2 linked regions of the Homo sapiens genome follow. The protein of the gene in region 2 purifies or fractionates together with the protein of the main gene of each other region. This does not show direct contact. Each region holds a gene or a part of one and is shown on either strand. Other genes may lie near its edges.

What was found. The genes of interacting proteins can lie anywhere in the genome.
Region 1: the proteins of IARS1 (region 2) and MAP4 fractionate together in Homo sapiens (co-fractionation; 2 studies listed by BioGRID). This does not show direct contact.

What each region holds. Positions count from the first base shown.
Region 1 is NC_000003.12:48,013,386-48,021,015, reverse strand, and holds the start of MAP4 (microtubule-associated protein 4), read left to right. Parts: upstream 1-4,599; 5' UTR 4,600-4,682; exon of another isoform or gene 4,683-4,695; intron 4,696-7,498; exon of another isoform or gene 7,499-7,541; intron 7,542-7,630. UniProt on the Homo sapiens protein: Non-neuronal microtubule-associated protein. Promotes microtubule assembly.
Region 2 is NC_000009.12:92,209,682-92,213,703, forward strand, and holds the end of IARS1 (isoleucine--tRNA ligase, cytoplasmic), read right to left. Parts: intron 1,209-4,022; coding exon 1,126-1,208; 3' UTR 526-1,125; downstream 1-525. UniProt on the Homo sapiens protein: Catalyzes the specific attachment of an amino acid to its cognate tRNA in a 2 step reaction: the amino acid (AA) is first activated by ATP to form AA-AMP and then transferred to the acceptor end of the tRNA.

The DNA.
Region 1 (7,630 bases), on a different chromosome or scaffold from region 2:
ATTTCTCTGTGTCATGATTACCCTTACTGCAAGAAAACCAACAACACTGAGATTTTTGGTGCAGTAGCACATGCTTCTAGTCTCAGCTACCTGGGAGGTTGAGGCTGGAGGATCGCTTGAGCCCAGGAGCTTGAAGCTGTAGTGTACAATGAGCACACCTGTGACTAGCCAATGCACTCCAGCCTGGGCAACATAGTGTGACTTGTCTCTAAAAAAAACAAAACAACAACAACAAATAATACTCATATTGCTTAACCCTGTCCCTGAACAATTCTGATCCAGCGTGTTTTTTTTGTTTTTTTAATACTTTTAATTCAGATTTTTACTTGTATTTCAGGTAAAATATTAAAAGTTATGTTACTAATAACTTGAAAGATCTCTTCAACTTTTGCTGTTCAATTTTCATTTAATAATGATATTCCCCCCCTCCTTTTTGAAAGCATCTGTAAGATATTAGGTCAAAGTAAGGCCTTTGCCACGACTACAAAATGCTTGTTAAGTACTCCCATAGAGTTTGTATCTTCTCCTTCTTGCTCAGAAAAGCTGAGCTACTCTACCCTTAGTCGTGCCTAGAACCAATACTTAGAAGAACTATGAGGGTGCTTCCAGCTGTGCAAACATCAACCCCAGCAAGAGAAGGCTGGTATGGTATGGAGCAGAGCGCACCTAGCAGGACAAATGTGCATTTAATGAGAGCCTGTGAGGTTTCAAGTTTATTATATTTAGATGTCCAGGATAAAAGGTGAGAAAGATGCTATCCTAGCCATCGAGGAACTCAAGCGTTAAGGGGAACTCTGGGTGGGACACACATTGTAAATAAACAATTACAAGGGTGGGCATGGTGGCTCACACCTGTAATCCCAACACTTTGGGAGGCTGAGGCAGGCGAATCACTTGAGGTCAGGAGTTCAAGACCAGCCTGACTAACATGGTGAAACCCTGTCTCTACTAAAAATACAAAAATCTCCGTCTCAAAAACCCCACAAAAAACAAAACAAAACAAAAATTATAGAATTGGCAGCACAAATTCCTATGTCCTCTTCTACCTTCCACTTTTCTTTATTTTCACTGATATAAAATAGAGTGAAACTTCACTTTGCTTAATGGGAGAAGTTTTTCTTTTGTTATCTATTATTTTCAAGACAGGGCCTCACTCTGTAGCCCAGGCTGGAGTGCAGTGGTGCTATCACGGCTCACTGCAGCCTTGAACTTCCTCTGCTGAAGTGATCCGTCCACCTCAGCCTCCCAAGAGCTGGGACCACAGGTGTGCAGGCTAATTTTAAAATGTTTTCTGTGGAGACGCAGTCTCAACTGTGTTGCCCAGGCTGGTCTTGTACTCTTGGGCTCAAGCAGTTTTCCTGCCTCAGCCTTCCAGAATGTTGGGATTATAGGCATGAACCACCATGCCCAGCCAAAAGAGAGTTTTTTCTTTAATAAAATAGTTCTCAAAAGCTAAGAGCTGATCAAGTATGAATATTCTTCCTTTCTTCCAATCTCCTCAGCACTAAGTCATCCTAAAGTTACATGATATGCTTATTACTTTCTGACAGATATATGAGCTGATAACTATAGAGATTTAATATTTTAATAATTATAAAGTTTTAATATTTATATGATCATATTAACATGATGGTAGTGGCTGATATCTTTCTCTCTTTCTCTCTCTGTCCCTCAGAGATGTGGTCTCACTTTCTCGCCCAGACTGGAGTACAGTGTTGTAATCATAGCTCACTGCATCCTCAAGCTCCTGGGCTCAAGGAATCCTACTGCCTCAGCCTCCTGAGAGGCTGGCACTACAGGCACACACCACCATGCCCAGCTAATTAAAAACATTTTTTTTTGTAGAGATGGTGTCTTGCCATCTTGCCCAGGCTAGTCTTGAATTCCTGGGCTCAAGTGGTCTTCCTGCTTTGGCCTCCCAGAGTTCTGGGATTACAGGTGTGAGTCACCATGCCAGGCCAGTAACTGGTCGACCATCTTGAATATTTGTTTTTGCCACATTGCATCATGTCATGCTTTTCTAAAAGCAGAGAGAGCTATTTTTATTGCTATGCCTAATAATGATAAGATGACCAGCATGGAGAGCTGGTTCGTACGGTTACTCCTTACTGGCTTTCTTTCTATAATTCCAGACAACATGCTTGCTCTTGTACAAACTGTGTTTAGAAAGTGGAAGAAAATAGGTGAATATTCTTTTTTATTTTTATTTTTTTGAGACAGAGTCTCACTCTGTCACCCAGGCTGGAGTGCAGTGACACGATCTTGGCTCACTGCAACCTCCACCTCCCAGGTTCAAGTGATTCTCCTGCCTCAGCCTCTCGAGTAGCTGGGACTACAGGTGCACACCACCACGCCCGGCTAATTTTTGTATTTTTAGTAGAGAGGGGTTTCACCTTGTTGGCCAGGATGGTCTCAATCTCTTGACCTCATAATCCACCCACCTCAGCCTCCCAAAGTGCTGAGTGCTGGGATTACAAGCATGAGCCACCACACCTAGCCAAGGTGAATATTTGTAATTGGTGATAACCTTTCAGCCTTGAATCTGTTTATTCTTTTTCTAGTTGTGAAGAGTTTTTGTAATTTTGGAACTTCTGATTAATTTCAAATTAGATTCAATTTCTAATAACTTTCATCGTGTCATTTTAGAAATGTGTTTTTAGCCCCTTGTTTTGTTGGTTTTTATCATTTTGGCCTGTCTCCTCTGTAGTCTACTAGGAACAGAGAAGGTGTGCACATCACTTTGATGTGGTCCTCTCTTCTGGGACCCAGCAGTTTACAGGAGCTGGTATATACAACTAACTACAGTGGGGGGTCCCCAACCCTCGGTCTGTAGATTGGTACCAGTCCATGGCCAGTTAGGAACTGGGCTGCACGGCAGGAGGTGAGCAGCAGGTGAACAGCATTACATTAACTTTGCGATAAGTGTGCCTGAGTTCTGCCTTCTGTCAGATCAGCAGTGGTTTTAGATTATCATAGGAGCGCAAACCCTATTGTGAACTGCACATGCGATGGATCTAGGTTGCATGCTCCTGTGAGAATCTAATGACTGATGATCGGAGGTGGAAGAGTTTCATCCCGAAACCATCTCCTCCCTCTCACCCCTCCTGCTATCTGTGGAAAAATTGTTTTCCACGAAACCTGTCCCTGGTGCCAAAAGGTTTGGGGACCACTGAACTACAGTATAGATCAGACTCTACTGTTACAAGTACAGATGATGTATTAGTTCTGAATACTACTGGGAGAAAGATTCTAAAAAGCAGTCACAGAAAAGGTGGTAAGACAATTTATGTGGACCTTGATTTCAAGACTTTCACAAATGAGGAGGGAGAGAAGATAACTTCAAGTTTGGAGAGCAAATGAGCATAGGGTGTACAGTGATAATGTAAGATGGTAGATGGTCCCATGTGACTAAATTGTAGGGAGACCCTACATGGAAAGCTGCTGATGATTATGGTGGGTGATAGGACTGAGTCTTGTCAGTCAGCCTTGATATTACACGTAAGAGTTTGGATTTACAAAAAAAAAAAAAAAGAAAAAAGAAAAAGACATCTAGGCATTGGGGTCCCTTTAAAGATCAGGTGGAATGTTTTCCTGATGTTCAGGATTCTTCCTGCCTGCCTCCCTCCTTGCAGAAGAAAAGATAGGTAGGTATAAGTAGTAGGTAGGTAAAGGTATGTATAAGCAGGTATAATTCAAAAGGTATATGAAGTACAGCGAAGTCATTGTGTTAGATAAAAGCAGAAACTACAAAACTGTAAGGTTTTGCTTATTTTGTCACGCTCTGCTTCTGTTTTTGGTGTTCTGTGGCTCTTTTCGCCGATCCTTTGTCTCAGCCTCATTTGTAAGTGACTTGTTTTTTCCATTTCTCATTTTTTTTTCCATCTATTAAAGTGAGGGGATTGGATCCTAGATCAGTTCAACTGGTGTAAGCCTTTAGAGCCAGGCATGGTGGCTCATGCCTGTAATCCCAGCACTTTGGGAGGCCAAGATGGGTGGATCACTTGAGGCCAGGAGTTTGAGACCAGTCTGGCCAACATGATGAAACCTCGTCTCTACTGAAGATACAAAAATTAGCCAGGCATGGTGGTGTGCATGCCTGCAATCGCAGCTACTCAGGAGGCTGAGTTAGGAGAATCACTTGAACCCAGGAGGCGGAGGTTGTAGTGAGCTGAGATCATGCCACTGCATTCTCCAGCCTGGGCAACAGGCCAAGACCCTGTCTCAAAAAAAAAAAAAATGCCTTTAGAATGTGGTTAGAAATAATTTTTGGATTGGTATAGATTAACTCTGAATGTTTTCCTGTGTTAGAGGAAGGAAGTGGGATAAATGTAAAGTTTAAAAAAAATGCTCCTTTTTCAAAATTTTGAGGGGTTAGGTATTAAGAATCTTTTAAAGTTTTACTCATTTAAAAAATTTAGATAAAATGGAAGATTCATTCTTAAGGTTGGTGATATCAGAAATGTAAGTGCTGTGTCATTGTCATTTCTTATTTTGGCCTACATAACCGTAACCAGACTTCAGACATCATGCTGCCTGTATCACATGGCTAACAGTGGGAGGTATCTGGTGTGTTCTTCCTGGAGAAATAGATTGAAATTCATTTGGACAGAAATGTTGAAGGCAGGTGCCTGATCCAAAATGCATTTAGTCAGGACTGAACACAAGCTGCCTGGATAGTTCCTGTAAGTAAGCAAGGTAGCCTTTTAACTTTGTGATGCAAGGTTTTATGTATGTGAGTATGTGTGTGCAAGTGTATACAGTATTTTTATATCCAGAGAACAGGGCTCCCTTAAATGGGGGGTGGGGGGGACTCTGGTAACTACATGAAAGTAAAATATAACTTCTTTAAACCTATATCAGTGTGTTCTTTCATGTAGGAATGTAGCTGTGTGATGGCCTCAGCTATTCTAGTAATCAAGGGCTCTCTGCTGTTGCTAATCCTATGATGAACAGGACAAATGGTGGTTACGAACAGAACCCTGTCAAGCCTGGAAATTCCATCAGTTTGTAATAGCACAGCTGTTGTCCTTGAACTGTGTAGGGAGGAACCTAGGGGTGGACAGTTAATATATTCTTCAGGGGGGTTGTAGTTTATTGCTCAGGATAGTCAAGATCTTCCTCAGTTGTCTGTTGCTATCTGCAAGTCTGGTTTGGAGGAGAAGCAGGAGAAATTCAGATTTGTCTGAGGAATCATATGTGTCTGTGAACTGTGTAAGTTGGTAGTTGATTCCTGTAGACATCCTTGCTAAAGATTTATTTTTAAGTAAAATATCATTTTGCTTGAAAGTATAAATCAAGGTTTTGTGGTTAAATAAATTAAAAACAGCACAGCTGCCAGACAAAGTTCAGCTTGATGTATAACAGGCCTCTGAAAGAAGTTCAGTAAGAAACAAATCTGGGTAATAAAGTTAATTAGTAACTAAAAACCTGCTAGGCATACTAAAAAAAAATCTGATGTTGAATATTAAATTATTATGAAGCAGGCTATACCTGTATCCATCAAGATTATAAATGATCTCCCACACTGGCGACGTGGGGTTCCTTTCAAGCCTGAGGAATGAGCACTATATTTTGGCCACAGCATTCTCACTAATGTCCTAGGATAGCAGCTTAGTGTTGGCTTTAGAATTCTCTGTCATTTAAATGTCATGCAAAAACAAACGTATAAAAGAAAACATTAACCCAGATATCTTTATGGTTCCTTGTCTTGTCCATAACCGCCCCCGCCCCCACCCACCCAAAAAGGACAGGCTATCAGTTATAGAGAAAATATAAGTGAGCATTATAAGCAGTATCCTACCTTTAGTAATAATTATTTAAAGTTTATTAAATGGGTTGTTTGGAACTCAAAATGATTTGCCTCAAAGTAGCCTAGGTCACTGAGAAGAAAGTTTATTTCTTTCTGCTGAAACTGACAGGAGGCGATATTTTGAAAGATAGCAAGCTTGTCTTTGGCATGGTATTAACTCCCTTTCTTTTGCCTCCTAGGGCTCCTGGGCCTGTATACCCTTTCCCTACTTTGATACCATATCTATATCTGCTTTATTCCCTGAAAGTTCCCATGTTGCCATAATATTTTTCTTCCTTTTTCACACCAGAACCAAGAACTCAGACATCTTCAATAGAACCATCTCTGGGATGAACAATGGTCTTTCCAGGGATGTACATTTTCTTACCCACTTTTAAATTAAGAAATAGGATTCTATACTTTTAAAAAGAGAATGCTGGCTACTGCAAATGAATGTCGGTAGAAATTTGGCTAATGTGACACAGTAAAATGAAGGTTTCCTAACACAGTGGTTAGGAAAAGTGAGTATGATGGTGGGAATCAGGCTTCTGTTCTTGCTTTTTTTTTTTGAGTCAGGGTTTCACTCTGTTGCCCACGCCGGAGTGCAGTGGTGCAATAGTGGCTCACTGCAGCCTCAACCTCCTGGGCTCAATCAGTCCTCCCACCTCAGCCTCCTGAGTAGCAGGGACTACAGGCATGTGCCACCATGCCTGGCTAATTTTTACATGTTTTTGTAGAGATGGGGTTTTGCCATTTTGCCCAAGCTCTGTTCTAGCTTTTCATGAGTTTTTTCCCTGCATTTTAGCTCCCATAGTAGCACCTTTCAAGGGGTGAATAGAAGAGGACAGAGACAGCAACAGGCCATTGGTAAACCAGATTGCCAATTTCTCATCAGACAGAATGAGCACAGACCCCGAGTGAGTGGCTCTAGATGCGAATGACCTAAAATTTTCAGGAGGACTTCATGGAGCTTAAAAGGTTCTTCAGAACTTCTGTGTAATTAAGTTAGATATTAACACTGTTTAATCTGTATAGACCTGTAAAATATTTTTAGTACAGTAATTAATTCCAGAGTTTGTGAACTATCCAAAGTAAAGCATACAACAAAGTACTGTGGCCTCATCATATATCCTTATTTCCTGTTTATGAGCACCTAGCTCTTAATAGTGAGATTGTAGTCAAGAGAGTATTTTATCATCATGCCATGTAGTTGCCTCTTGCCTTAGTTTACCTATTTTAAAAAACCCGGCTCACTAATAGTTTCACTTCAGGCATGTCATCAGAATGAAAGATCAGATATACAAAGTGCTGTGCTTGAAAACTGTGTGTTCCCTTAGTGCCTGGTTAGATAATACAGGGCTTATTTTCTGGCAGAGTGGTGTTGAGTCTCCTTTGATGTTAGCCAGAACTGGGTGGAGTTTCTTAAGCTCCAGTCAGATTGGCTCAAGCAGGGCACCATGCAGTGGTGAATTTGTTTTCAGTCCCTCCCTTTGCCAAAAAGCTTTTTTTTTTTTTTTTAATAAACCTCAACCCAATTATAAATGAGAATACTTGATATATGAAATAATATGAAATGATAGTTGTTCATATTCACACTGAGGGTCTTAGGGGGTTTATTTATAGCTAACTGAAATGATGCAGCTGAATTACAAGTAGCTGATAGAATAATCAACCTCAGTAAACATTTAACATAACACTCTCATTTTACAGATTAGAGAACTCAGCCCTGAAAGGTGACTCATTCAAGGCCACAGTGAGTGTCAGATTAAACTGGTGCTTCAGTAAAGCATACAGACTTCTGTACCCAGCTTTCAAATTCTCTTGACTCTTACTCACAAATCT
Region 2 (4,022 bases):
CAATTCCCCAAGTTCTGGTTGTTTCCTCTATTTTCTCCAACTTGTGGGTTTTTGTGTGAATGCATCTGTTGTAGTAGCCATAGGGATGTATCATTCAGATCTCCCTTCAAAAGAATCTGACATGAGGAGTGTAGTTGGTACTTTCAGATCCATCAAGGCATTTGTGCGAAGGCCACGCTCCCCTTGGTCTCCTCCCAGAAACTGACTTGAGGAAGTCAGAGAAACAAAGCCAGGCTATTTCTGCCCAATTCTGAACTCTACTAAAAGGAATCCTTGCTTGGGAACTCTCCATTGGCCTGACCAAGACTTCATCTTAGAGTTGCACTGCAGTCTAAGTTTTTGCTAATCAATCTTCATTTTCTCTTTTTACAGGTGTCAGACCCACACTGCAGTCTGAAGGCTCTCTCGACCTACGCTTGCTCCATCTCCCGTTTATCCTCCATTTATGTTTCCTCTAATAAATTCTTGCACATCTAACTTTGTCATGTCATCTGCTTCTCTGAGGACTCAAATTATCACCTGGGATTTTGGAAAGAAGTTTTATTAGATGTCTAGTCCACTGTCTTAATAAGAAACCACCATGAAGTTTTTATGTTCTTCAAAGTTTACACATTTCAAGTTTCATTTATCTATGGGAGAATGAATTACTTTCAACACATTTATATCTGAGTTTGTTTATTGTTCTGATTTACTGAAACTTAAAATATTCCATCAAATTATCCAGGAAAATCCAGGTGGCAGAAATATATAATATGTCCATTTCATCAAGAGGTCTCAAATAAATTTTAAAAGGCCAGAAAATGATATATATACTATGCCATTTAAATCACTTCTATCTTCTGTACTTAAGAACTCAAGTATAGAAATAAACTGTGGGCTGAAGTAACATTGTAACCTGCTCCCAACATGACTGCATAGGTGTCTAAGGTTAAGTGTGAAGATTACTGTGAGGTCTCAAGTTACTTGACTAATCAATCCCATTTGAATTTCAATCCAAGCAGCATATTTTACACACACCTGAAGGAAATATCTTCAGTGTGTTCATGTGTGTGTCTATGTGCATGTATGTGTAGGGGATAGGTGTAATTAGGGAAGGGCTGACCGAACAACATTGATAAGTACATGCTAGAAGTCTGCTGTTGTTGGTAACACAGAAACATACACAGTCTTCATATTCAAAGTCTTCACGGGGATGTCTTCTGTAATTTCTAGAATGGAAAGAAAAAGTTGAAAAAAAATCAGTATTTTACCTATTGGGGGTGAATATTTAAAAAAATGTTAACTGCTTGTGTAGTAAGGAATTTGGCCTTATCCTAAGAGTTCTGCCTTTTGTCCCAGCTCCTGAGGTGAACCTCTAAATCCTTGGAATTTCCTGGTAGGAATCTTTGTTTCTCATGGTGGGTATGTTCACCAAACCTGACAGTTGTTGCTAATGAGACAATTCAGGGTAGTGCTGGCCAGGACAGAAAGACCAAGTATATGATTTAGGATGGGGACTTTGGGTCACATGGTATATCAGTTGAGAAAGACAGCAATCATGCCTACAGAATGAAACCTCAACAGAAACTGGACACCAAGGCTCGAGTGAGCTTCCCTGGTTGGTAATATAGTCTCTGTGTTGTCAGATGTAAGGGATGAGAGGAAGAAACATTATCCATGACTCCAGGGTCTCTCTCTCTCTCTCACTCTCGCTGGTTCTAACGTGTATCCTTTCCCTACCCTAATTCAAACCATGAGTGTAATACCTTTTAGTGAGTCTGAGTCCTCCTAGCAGGTTACTGAACCTGAGGGTGGTTTAGGAAAATCCCTGGAACTTGCAGTTGGTGCCAGCAGTGATGGGGGTCTTGTGTGGATCTTTCCCTGAGTAGAATCCTCACTCCTTGCAGGTGGAGTTAGATATCGGGCAGACTCCTGGAGCCTTCTGGAGGACTATGCCATCACTTCACAGTTTGGCTAACTCTGGGTACTGCCAAGATGGTTATTTTTCCTCATACACAGATACTTCCTATGTCTACAAAAAAAGCCTAGAGGCTGTGCCAACTCAGTATCCCAGATATGTGGTTTCAAAATATGATTCTCTATAATTTGAAGAACAGCTATTTTCTACGTCTGGAGAAGTAAAAGTACATAATAAGCCTAGGACATGTTGCTACGTGAGAAAGCAAGAATTTACCAAAGACAAAGGATCATGTTAAAGAATACAGGATCCAATATGGCCAATGACGAAAACTCTGAGCATCCAAAAATATAACCCAAATGCAATTGATTGAAATATACTGAATATACAACTCAAAAACAAAAAAAAAGAAAATTTAAAGTTATCTGCCTACTGTGGAGCATTTTGCTTCTAGTCAGATCTGAATTTAAAGCAAACAGATGAGCTTCCTTTAAAAATAGCTCTTGTCCTACCTAGCAGCAATCCTAGATGTGAGAATACTCTCAAAGCTACTTCCTTAATAGATAATTACAGGACCTGGAGATGATGTTTAGAGTTTAGTGGAGCAAGCAAGAAGACATCTAAGGGTTTCTAAAATGGTCAACATTTTGTGGCTCTTCTAATTTACCAAGTTATTGATACTTTATGAAAGACAATTCTGAGAGAAAAGGCATAATGAAAACGAAGCTATAGATACTAGATTGGAAAGATACTGAATTAGAAAAAGTTCCAACTTTGTGGTAATCTTAGATAAATCACTAAACATTTAAAAGTTCTCACCCACTAAACTTTTGCCTAACTAACGTCACAGAGTAAAGAGAATACAGAAAGGCAGCACAGGTTAAGAATGGTTCTGTGAATTGCAGGTAGTATTATAAATACATAATTCATACAGACATGGTTCTACCCCTGACCAGGTTCAATCATGCCACTGCATTTGCTTGCAAGAACAAGTGAGAGATAAATGTCATCTTCAGCTCCACTGCACAACAGTACTTGGTGACCAAAGGATTTGAGGGACAAGAAGAGTTAAGAATTATCTCTAAAGTTTTATATAAGCTTATCAAAATAGAAAGCTACATTATTAGATGATCTTTACTACCATACCACAATGAAAGAGCCAAGTGTGTTCGAGGGAGAGTGAAAAAAGCCTTTGATAGAGTGAAAGACTCATGGACAGAATTAGCAAGACAGGGAAGGCCCAGAGCAGGAAGGATCTTGTGTGGAAGGGAAGATTCTGAGGCATAAGAGAATAAGGAGCTTTGGGGGCTCTAAGCAAGGGAACAAAATCAAGGCAGGAATGTTCATGAAGATAGCTCTGGTGAAGAGTACAGACTGCAGACTGGTGACTTAGATGGATGATGAGGCCCAATGATGAGATGAGAGGGAAAACGACAAAGGAGAGTCACTGAAAATAAACCCAGGGAGGGAAGGAGGAACCCAAGAAGAAATAGAGCTTTAGTATTTAACATCATGACAGAAAATTTAAAAGTACGATATGCAACTAAATTTAAAAAAAAAAGCTGCACAGGAAGAAAACGGGAGAATTACACAGAGGCCAAAAATAATGACTCCCATGGGGTCTGGTGGCTTAATGCTTTTGGCACTAAAGAGCTAGGAAAGCAGGGAAAGAAAAGCCTCCGGTATATACAAACCGGGAAGTCCAACAAATCTCTGCTGAAGAAACTGGAACTTCAAATAAGAAACCCATAGCAAAAGGGTTAATTTGAGTAAGTTCCTTCACCACAAGAGAAAAAGTGAAGAGAATGTAATCGGTTAATAATGGCCTTCCAAAGATATGCCCAGGTTCTAAATTCCCAGGAGCTGTGAATGTTCACTTTATTTGGAAAAAGAGGAAACAGAAGAGAAGGAGGCAATGTGACCACGGAGTCAGAGACTGAAGTGATGTGGCCACAAGTCAAGGGATGCCTGGCGCCACCATAAGCTAGAAGAAGTATATAAGGAATTCTCCCACAGAGCCTTCAGAGAGACTGTGGCCTTTCTGACACCCTAATTTCAGTGTCTGGCCTCCAGAGCTGTGAGATGACTTGAGCCATCCCATTTGTGGAAATTTGTTGCAGCAGCC